2 separate regions of the Homo sapiens genome follow, and region 2 is linked to region 1. Evidence: fine-mapped expression QTL. A gene starts in region 1. The other region holds a variant in brackets. All regions are shown on one strand. Distances are from middle to middle.

Region 1 (5,367 bases):
CACAGTGACCTGCGCTGGGGAACATGCCTTGAGCAGGAAGGGCCCGCTGGCCAAAGTTCCAAAGGGAAGCCCTAAGGGCTAGTGTGAGTTTCCCAGGGAGATGATACAGTGCAGGGCTTCCAGGCAGAGGGACTGGCCGGTGCAAAAGCGTGGCAGTGCTGTGGGTGCCAGAGCCTGGCCGGGCAGCAGGTGGCAGCACGTGCTACTGAAGGAGAGGGGGCAGTTTCTCGGAGTAGAGGGAGGTTTAGAAAGCACAGAGGGTCACGGTTCATGACCACGGTGCACCTGGGCAGGTAAGTCCTGGTGCAGGATCAGGTCCCACTCCACCAGCTCAGTGACTACTGAATTTTTTTTTTCCCCTCGGGGCCACATGAACCCCATTCAGACCTGGGGGATTTGTCTGCAGTGATATCACATCCCTAAAGCAGGAGTGCAGGGGGGTGCCAAAGGGCGTTGCTCTGAGGATGCTGTGAGAACTGCTATTTTATAGTTTTCCAGAAAGCTTGAGAGAGGGGATGAATTGGCAGGAGCCCAAGAAAGTGGCAACAAGTTACAAGTGTGACACCAAGCTCTTTAGTGGCTTAGAAATCTCCCCACCCGGGTCATCCCCTGGGATCTGCCATGACTGGGGTCGCTTGTGGTGGTCTTGGGTCAGGCCTCTCCTCGCACACTTCCTAACTGCTCATCTGCCCAAGGCAGGGTTAGAATGAGTGAGTGATGGAGCAAACAGCTGGAAGCTCAGCTCTGAGCAGAAGGGATCTTTCCATTCCAATTGTCCCTAAGGGCTATAGCATTGTGGTATCCCCAGAGAACAGCACAGAGTAAGGCACACAATTAAATGCACCATAAATATTGGTAGAATTATTAATCTCCAAAGCAGCTTGTAAAAGGTTCAACTCCCAGGCCACCCCCGACAGGCCTGCCAAATTCCACTCTCCCCAGCAGGGGTCTGGGAAGCAGGACTTGGAGAAATCTTCCTGGTAGTTCTTTGACCAGGCAAGTGTGGGAGGCACTGGCTGGTCCAACAGGCTAGTCCAAGCACGTCAGCTTTTGAAAGTGGTCACGGTCATGGTGGTGGTGGTGGGAGTCGGGGTCCGGAGAGGGGTGGAAGAATTTGCCTGGGATTGTAAATTGGGCTTCCATGCCAGGGAACTGGGCCACTTTACCTAGTGGGGACTGGGAACTGGGGACTGACAGAGTGACGCCCTGTGTTCTCTGCCATGCCAACTTGGGTCCAGAGCCTGGGGCTCCCCACTTTTGGAAACCCTGCCATGCTTGATTTTCACAATTCACTTACAGTCTCCCCAGTCCAGTCCCTGGTACCCCAACAAGGATGGGGGTGGGGGGCTGTGCTGACACAGAAGAAGGAGGGCTTTGGCCAGGTAGCAAAGTGTTCACAAAGTGTGAATCCCTTAAGCATTTCTGGGTATCCCTGCCCCTGGCTTTTACATCTCAGACCCCCAGCCAAGACTCAGGTACCAGCTGCCTCCCAGGACAGCAGAGAGCCAGGCTGTGGGCCGTGGGCTGCCAGGGACAGCTCCAACCCTGATCTATGGTTTTAGGCTTTCAGCCCCAACCAGGTCTTTGTTAAGACCGAGAAGAAAAGGGAAAAAGCTACAAGGTTCTGTCTCCCTAGAAAAGGAAAGGGAAGGCTGCCAGGGAAAAATTGTAGGGGGTGGGGGGATGCCTCATGCCCCTTCTGCGCCCCCTTCCGCGTGGTGGTGGGGACAAGAGAGAGATGTGGGTGAAGAAGAAGGTGGGGTGGGCGGCTAATTGAGGGGGACGACGATTGTGGCGCGGTCAGCGATGCGCCCAGAAGAGTGTGAGTGGGTTGTGTGTGTGTGCGCGCGCGCGCTCTTAGATGAAATTCTCATCTCAGGGTGTGCCCGAGACCCTGGCCAGCAGCCGCCTGCCCCAGCTTTGGGCAGACGCCCCCACCCGCTTTCGCAATTCACCTGGCCCCTTATCTTGAGTTGCGAGGGCTGCTCCCTCCCTCCCTCTTCTCGCCACCGAACCCCCATTCACCTGTTCCCCACCCCGAGTTCAAACGGCTGCTGCAGCTTCCTCCTCCCCGCACCGCCCCCGTACCTGCGCCCCCACAGGGCAGACGATGCTTGGCTGCGCGGCGCGGCGCGGGGCGAAGAGGCGAGGACCCTGCCCGGCGTGTGGGTGCGGGGGTGATGTGTGGACGCGCGTGACTGTGCCAGCGGCCCGAGCTGGTCGGCCCCGGAGAGGGTGCGCGGGGGAGCCCGCGTGTGCCAGCCGCGGGCGTGTGCCAGGCGCGGGCGTGCGCGTGAGGGTGTGTGCACGGCCGAGGCGGAGCGCCCGGGCGGGCGGCGGCGGCGGCGGCGGCGGCAACGGCGGCGGCGTTAGGACTCGGGGGACACCGCCCCCCGCCCCCCGCGTCCCGCCCCCGCCCAGCCTCCCGCCTCAGTTCGCGCCGCGCCTCGGCTTGGAACGCAGGAGCGCCGGCTCCGGGAGCCCGAGCGGAGCCAGCCGCGCGCACAGCCAGCGGCCGCGCCGGCGATGCGGGGCCACCCCGCGCCCGCCCCAGTCCCGGCCCCGGCCCCCGCGGGAAGGGGCTGAGCTGCCCGCCGCCGCCCGGATGGCGAGCCTCGCCGCGCTCGCCCTCAGCCTGCTCCTGAGGCTGCAGCTGCCGCCACTGCCCGGCGCCCGGGCTCAGAGCGCCGCAGGTGAGTGCGCCCGCCCGGCTCCCCTGGGCTCCCCGCTCCCTCCTGGATGCGCGCGGGCCCCCAGCCGCGGGGCCCTCGGAGGAGAAAGTTGTGTGGGCTCGCGGGGGCGCGGGTCCCCATGGCCGGAACCCGGGTCTCAGCTTGCAGGCGCGGGAAGCAGTGTCCCCGCGCGCCCCGGCCAGCGAGCCCGGCCCCTCGCGTCCCTCGGCAGCCCGCGTTTGGCGAAGTTCCCCGCTTCAGTTTCCTGCCGGCCCCCCGGGCTGGAGTAACTTTCCGCGGTTGTTGCGAATATTTCCACTTGCTGCCTCCCACTTGTCGGAATCTGCCACTTGAGTGTTTGGGGCGGCGAGACGAGGAGCGGCACCGACGCCCGGGGTGGAGCGTTCTCTCCCGGGCAGCTCCTCGGGCAGCGCGCGCTTTTAGTGGGGAGGACAGGTCCCCAGCAGGCCGAGGCTGCCGGGGCGGCGGCTTTTCTTTTTTCCTCGGAGATACAGGAAGCTCTCCATTTGCTCTGAACACGCTGCTCCCCTAAGCAGGCCGCTGTAGGCACCCGAGGGGATGTTTGCGTTGATGACCGAGAGCAATACCTCCGCCCTACCCGCTGGCTTTTCTCCGAGGTAGCTGGGCGCCCGTGTTAAGGCCCTTGGAGGGGAGTGGATTTGACCCGTGAGCGCGTCCGCTCCTGAAAAGTTCGGGGAACTCATATTTGGGTTTGGCCACGGGAAGGCGGTGAGCAGAGGTAGTTCCCCAGAGTAGGGGGAGCGGGGGCGGGGGGGTGGTGCCTGCCGTGCTCCTAAAGGCACGTTGGCGGGTGCTGGAGGGCACCACAGTCCAGGGTCTTACACATCACCAAGCCCCACCGCAGGCAGCTTCCACCCCCGAGCCCCCCCCCCCCCAAGAGTAGCGGCGGAGGGAAGAGAAGGGAGTGCTGCAGGTGTACTTCCAAGTTCAAAATCACCTTAAAGTTTCTTAGCACCGATTGCTTTTGGTGTAACCACGCCGGCCTGAGGTGGCTGGGATTGCGGGGACAGGCTGAGATCAGCCCGTGGGACGCAGGAACAGGCTGGTTTCGGATCGCTAAGCAACAGCTGTGCCCATTTATTATTTCACCGAAAGAAGGAAAGGAAGAAAGAAAGAGCAAAAGAACGAACCTGTGGGGAGGTACAGCGTCTTTGCACAAGCTGCGTCTGAGGTTAAGGGCCGCTGGAAGGACATTCCGTTGGAAATGCTTTAGAGCCTTCCTTGCTTGGTACTAAAATGGAAGCGGAATAGGCGACTTCTGTGAAGGGACAGCCTGTTTCCCTGGCTGGGAAGTTGGGTGACGAAGACACTCCTTTTGAGGTGTGTGAAGCTGAAAGGTTGGATTAGCAAGTGAGAGAAGAGGGACAGCTACAGCACCATTCTAAAGATGGTGCACAATTCTTGTTTTCCTCATTTTGGGGGGTGTGTTAGGTGTGCTAGGGGAGGGAGGGGTACTAGGGAGGATGCCCGGGGCAGTCCTGGGGATCCAGGCATGATTCGTGACTCAGATTTTATATCCTCTAAGGCATGACCGGCCAACCACACATTAATACCACTCACGTTCCCGCGGCAGAAACAGGATCAAAAATATTCCATCACGGGTCTCGAATCGTTCTTGGGTAGCAAGCGGTAAAACCCGTACCGGCTCGGGAAGCTGTCCAGTGCTGAACGCCGCCCGTTCCGGATGCTCCCGCCAGGTGGCGCTCGCCCACAACTATTAAAATGCAAATCTGGTTGCTTTCATATCAGGAATAGAACTTCTTTTCAATTTTTAAATGAGTAATGTGTTTATTCAGCAGCCTTTTGTTAAAACATTTAGAGAAGTGTGAGGAGCGAGCACCTTTTCTTTGTTTGCTCTTTAGAATGCAGGAGAAAGAAAAGAAATCCTGGAATATGGTTTGGGAAGAAATCTGTGGTTCTTTTGGGTCTACCTGGGCAGGGTGGTTTCTGCAAACCTGCGATATAGCATATATTTAGCAAGTGGGTGCCTTTGTGCCAGGGGCTCCTTAAACGAATGGGATTAGCTTGTATTGGAGAACTGGTGCATTCTAAGCCTCACACATTTGTAGAAATGGGGATTTTCTGTATATATCTGTCCTCTCCTTTCCAGTTTAACGGCAACTAGACCATCTAAATTAGATTTTTTTTCCCCAGGGTTCCTCATGAACATCTGTATTTGTCAAAACAAGAATACTGTAAATGTTGACTTAAAAATGGACTTATCTTATTTTATTCCTAAATTCAGAAATTGTTAGTATTTCAAATCTAGTATAAATATGACAATAACTTGATTTCCTTTAAAGTATTTTATTTAAAACTTTTGGCAAGTTTGGACAAATACATTTTAAAACTAAGTAGTGTGTTTTCCATGTTCTTTTGATCTGAAAATTCCCAATCTTGAAAGCAATTTCAATTTATAAGGTTACATCCATAACATAGTTGGGCTAATATGTTTTGCTGTAACATGTTGGTCTCAGTGTCCAAAAGTCGGGGCGGAAGCTTGTCATCAAAAGGCAATTTCCTTTTTCCTTACTCTAAGACATATTTCTTGAGCCACGACGGTTTTTGGAAGGAATGATAGTAAAAATCAAACAAACAAAAAACCTTTAGAAACAGCCTCTTAACAATGTGGCAAAACATGATTTGGGATGGG
Region 2 (5,367 bases), 620 kb after region 1:
TGTTTCTTTACTGTTCTGTTATAGCGATTGTTGACATTAACCTGACCTATCTACTTTTATTTTTAACTGCCTCTATATACTCTTCCTTGGTAATGGCCTGTTTTCTTTTCAGCTTGTTAAGTCTACTTGTTTCTAAAATACTGCTTGACCTGAACTTTCTTGTGTACTTTATTGTCATTTTTACTCTCCCTCATTTTACTCCCTGACATTGTCCCTGACCATTCATTTATGATAGCATTTGCCACACTGTATCAAAATGGACTGTCTTCCTCATCTGACGGTAAGGCAAGAATTGGGTACCAGCCATCTCTGTGGATGAAGCAGCTAGTTGAGGGGCAGAAACCCCTTGGGAGCTCAGGGGACACTTGTAGAATGAATAAATAAGTGAAGAAATTAATAAATGAATAATCATACTAAAGAAAAGATGATTGAGAATTTACTTATGCTTTTACCCAGGAAAATGTGTAAACGTATTAGTTCCTTTGTGTCTTTCTAAACCTTAGTCCACCTTATAATACACAGAAGATTCTGAAAGCCAGGTTCTTTTTCTGACACAGATAACTCCTGGGTCAGAAAACTCCAGACTTGCAAGTTCCAGAGAACTCTGGGGCAGAAAGCCATCCCAACCAGGGCAGGCAAAGCCCCAGGGAACTCAAGCCACAGCATTTTCTGGCCTCTGGGGAAGGATGGCCAATTGGATATTCTCTGAGCTTCATCCTCCTATTGTGAGAGAGAGTTAATTGATTGACTCACCGATGCATCCCGTCAGTCAGCAGCTGTTTACGGAACACCAGCTGCAGGCCAGGCACCGTGCTGCAAGGCGTAGATATGTTGCTGAACACGACTCCCTTCCAGATGTTCAGGATTTAACAGGCAAGTAAACAGAGGGTCCAGAGAAGGCACTCAGCACTGCCTCATGACATCAGGGAGGATTGCTCAGAGGAAGTGATGCCTAAACTGAGATGAGTCAAAATGAGGAGAGGGAAGGGTGGAATTGTTAATGGAGAGAAAGTGCGCCCCTGCCAGATTATCTAGGGACAAAGGCCCAGGAGGGAGAACTCATGCAGATGCTCCAACAGGCACTTACCCCAGCTGGATCGTAGTGTAATGGATAGAGGGGTAAACAAGAGCTGATTTCCTAGCGGTCCTGAGTCTCGACAGGTTGCCACGTCAGGAGTATTGATCTTTTTCTGGAAGCGATGGTGAACCTCTGAAGAGTTTTAAGCAGAGAGGTGACAGGATCAGAACTGCATTTTATATGCTCACTCTGGCTGCTGGGTAGAGGAGACAAAAGTGAAAGCAGAATGGAGGAGGCAGGCGGGGAGGGAGCTGCTGGGGTCATCTAGGCAACAGAAGATTGTGGCTGGACTAGTGTGGCGAGGGTGTGGGCGCTGGAGAAAAGTGGGCAGGTTCAGGAGATCTTTAGAAGGTAACATCGACAGGCCTTGGCAATCTGTTACATCAGGGGTTGGCAAGCAGTTTTCTATGCATCAAATGTGGCCCACTGCCTAGTGTTGTAAGTTTTCTCGGAACATTCACGCTACAACGGTAGAGTTGAGTAGGGTGAATGTTCCAATAAACAGAGCCTGCAAAGCCTAAAATGTTTACTGTCTGGTCCTTTACAGAAAATATTTGTCTGCCCCTGGGTTAGGTGCAAAGCACTGTGGGAAGTGAGGTTACAGAAAGATTTGAGGTTGCCACCTAGATTGTGGAGGTTGGTGCGTGTTGCTGAGATGGAAACCCAGGAAGTGGAGAAGGGGATAACCCAGTCTTTGCAGCCATGCCTCAGCCTGCCATTCTACCGGTTTTTAACTGAGCCCTGCCACTTTGCCTGGCTGGCTCTTCACAGCCTTCTCCTCTGGGAAAATGGCCCCTCTTCTTCCTTCTCTGTCCAGCTGTAGCTCTGCTAACACTTGACGGTCCTTCCAAAACCTTGACCTTGCTTTCACCGGGCCACAGGATCACTTGCTGCCCCCCATCACCTTGACCAAGGGACGGGTCTCTTGGCTGGGACCCACCTTCCTGCGTCTTTCTATGTGTGTGTTACCCCCATCTGGGACTCCAGAACCGGATGCAGTCATTTTATCAGCTTTGCACCAGTCGGTCCTTTTTCCCTGTGTATTAGACCATTCTCACGCTACTATAAACATACTACCAGAGACAGGGTAATTTATAAAGAAAAGAGGTTTAATTGACTCACAGTTCTGCATGGCTGGGGAGGCCTCAGGAAACTTACAATCATGGCAGAAGATGAAGGGGAATCAAGGCACGTCTTACATGATGGCATGATGGCAGGATGGCAGGAGAGAGAGAGAACAAACGAGGAGCTGCCAAACACTTATAAACCCATCAGATCTCTTGAGAACTCACTATCATGAGAACAGCAAGGGGGAAACTGCCCCCATTATGCAATCACCTTCCAACAGGTCCCTCCCTCGACATGTGGGGATTACCATTCGAGATGAGATTTGAGTGGGGACACAGAGCCAAACCATATCACCTTTCTTCGCCCAACCCCTACCCCCACCCCAGCTTTGTTGCTGAAGCCCTAGAAGCCTTTCTGTCCACCCGAGCCTGCTCCAGTGGGCTGAGTAGCACCTGGGCTGCCACTGCCCTTTGTTCTTCCTCTCCCTCCCTCCATCCCCTGGAGCAATGGTAACTTGCAGGGACATTGGGTGCACTGTCTCTTTTGGAGGCCAGGAAACAATCCCTGCTGTCTCTTTCTAAGCAGGTCACCTTTGGTGGGTGTGTAAATCCACTTTTCTGCTTGCCAAAGTGACATTTTCATGATACCCAAAGTTATTAAGTGGCATCTTTGGACACTTTCTTTTTAACCAAAGTGGAGTAGGCTGGGAAATGTCAATAGTGATAATGTACAGTTACGTCTCCAATACCCTTTTGATTGA[A/G]CACATGATTGAAATAGTGCAAACTGCAGAGCCCTTTGCAGGGAATTGCCAGTTAAAGAATTTGTTCAGACTCACGGGTTTTTGACTGTAAACTCTGAGTGTTTTAAATAAAATACTGGCTGCCATGGCCCTCCAACCGGAAATGTCAAATGCTCTGCCTGGCTCTGCAACCCACATAGGCAGGCTCAATGCTTCTCCAACTTGGGAGCCCAAACTGCCCTCAGTCAGAAGCATAGAAAGAGTCTATCTTGCTGGGTGCGGTGGCTCACGCCTGTAATCCCAGCACTTTGGGAGGCCGAGGTGGTGGATCACGAGGTCAGTAGTTCAAGACCAGCCTGGCCAAGATGGTGAAACCCCGTCTCTACTAAAAATACAAAAAATTAACCGGGCGTGGTGGCACGGGCCTGTAATCCCAGCTACTCCAGAGGCTGAGGCAGAGAAGTGCTTAAACCTGGAGGGGCGGAGCATGCAGTGAGCTGAGATTGCGCCACTGCACTCCAGCCTGGGTGACAGAGTGAGACTCCATCTCAAAAAAAAAAAAAAAAAGAAAGAAAGAAAGGGTCCGTCTTGCCATTTTGAGACCACTGTGCTGATAACGGGGTTGTATCATCCCCCACATAGGAGAACCTGCTCTGATAAGTGTGGACAGAAGTTTGAATGGAAGGAAGGAGGGAAAGTAGGGAGGCAAGCAGGATCTGGTGAAATCAGAACTTAGATCATGGGGTAGTCACCCAGTCAGTGTCCTTCAATTCAAACTTGGGCTACAGGCTACAATTTCTCCCAGTCTGAGACCAACAGATGCCAGCTTATTCTCACCACAACACTGTCTAATGCCCCCTCTTTATTGCCAAGGACAATCCCTCTCTGGAGCTCAACAGCTTGTGTCCTTCCAGAAAAGCTCCTATCTATGGAGGAAGGGTATCTTATCCAGACCATCATGGGCAGGGAGTTGGAGGTTGGGTGGGTGGGGGGTGGACTCATGCCACTGTGGAAGGCCCCTAGTGGCCAGGGTGCTTGCCTTGCCCAGTGCAGGCTGGGCTTGTGCAGCCAGGGGCATTCCTTTGACCTTCCTGCTGGCCCCTCCTTGGCTAGATGCACCTTGTTTCTCTTACTTCCATCTTCCTGTGGGCACCCTGCTCACTGTACCTCCTACACCTTGTTGCCCAATTCCTACAACATTAATTAGTTGTTAATTAATTCATTCTGTAATTTGACAAATATTTGTTGAGCTAAGGTGCTGGACATTGGGAATAGGATGGCAAACAAAACAGACATGGGTCCTGCTCTTATGGAGCTTATATTTTAATGGAGACATATATGCCAAAAAAAAAAAAGGCTATCAATTGTGTTTAGATGTTAAAAAAAAAAAAAAACAAAAACTTATCTCTAGTGTTAGAGGTCAAGGTAGGCATTGCCTTAGGGGACTTAGTAACTGGAAGAGGTATGGGTGAGCTTCTGGGATGCCCGAGAAGGCAGAGAATGTTTTATTGCTCCAGGTGGTGTTTACACAGGTGTGTTCAGTTTGTGAAAGTTCATAGAGATTGTGCTATGTGCAAGTTCCTGGATAGATACCAAACTTTGATTAAAAGCTAAACAACTAATTAAAAAGTTAATTAATTGTAATCATGATGAGTGCTATGAAGGAGAAGAATACAGTATGGGAATGCATGAGAAGTGGACCTTGCCTGAGAGGTGAAGGGGGCTTTCCTGAGAAAGGTGCATTTTATATGGGCTCGAAAGGACAAGGGAGAGATGTTGGGGCCAACAAGAATGTGAGGAGAGCATTCCAGGCATGTGCCAGGGCCCTGGAGTAAATGAGAGCATGGCCTGTGGGTGGAAGCTGGGGGAAGACCCATGTGGCCACAGCAGAGAAGGTAAGGGGTGAGGGTTCTTGGTGGGTGGTGAGGCCAGAGGGTGGCCAGCAGAGGCCAGGGCAGGGATAGTTTTCTTTATGCAAAGAGTAATGGGAAAACAATGAAGGATGTGCTATGGTCTGAACGTTTGTGTCCACCCCAAAGTTCATATCTTGAAACTTAAACCCCATGGTGATGGTATTAAGAGGTGGGACCTTTAGGAAGCAATTATGTCAGGAGGATCCCACCCCCATGAACGGGATTAGTGCCCATGTAAAAGAGGTTTGAGGGAGCCCCCGGCCTCTTCTGCCCTGTGAGCATGCATAAAGTCACCATCTATGAGGAACAGACCCTCGCCAGACATCATATATTCTGGAGTCTCAGTCTTGGACTTCCCAGTCCCCAGAACTGTGAGCAATGAATTTCTGTTGCTAATAAATTACCCTGTCTATGGTATGTGGTTATAACAGCTCAAACGAATACAGGAGAGCACCAGGCTCTAACTCAGGTGTTAATGAGATTCTCCTGGCTGATATGTGGGACACAAGCTGTGGCTGCCAAGAGGCGAAGTGGGAAGACCAGTGAAGGGGCTGGGGCATTCTTTCCAG

Direction of the effects. Positions count from the first base shown, and alleles are read on the strand shown. Sizes are in standard deviations (SD) of each study's normalised expression.
As copies of G replace A in region 2, the expression in pancreas of the gene that starts at base 2,433 in region 1 goes up (small effect, 0.29 SD a copy in GTEx).

The links. PIP is the estimated chance that this variant, and not a neighbour inherited with it, causes the effect.
Region 2: its variant is the best candidate, but not a certain one, in a credible set for the expression of PTPRT in pancreas (GTEx, PIP 0.68).

The regions. Positions count from the first base shown.
Region 1 is chr20:43,186,972-43,192,338 of GRCh38, reverse strand. It overlaps PTPRT (protein tyrosine phosphatase receptor type T), which reads left to right and starts at 2,433. Exons shown (of 31, transcript NM_007050.6): 1 at 2,433-2,693. The coding sequence starts at 2,606. It overlaps PTPRT-DT (PTPRT divergent transcript), which reads right to left and starts at 2,274. Exons shown (of 3, transcript NR_186414.1): 1 at 2,089-2,274.
Region 2 is chr20:42,571,835-42,577,201 of GRCh38, reverse strand. All of the region lies in intron 7 of PTPRT (protein tyrosine phosphatase receptor type T), which reads left to right. Among named protein-coding and RNA genes, the nearest start is that of PTPRT-AS1, 390 kb to the left of the region's middle. The variant A/G (reference allele first, on the strand shown) is at 2,907.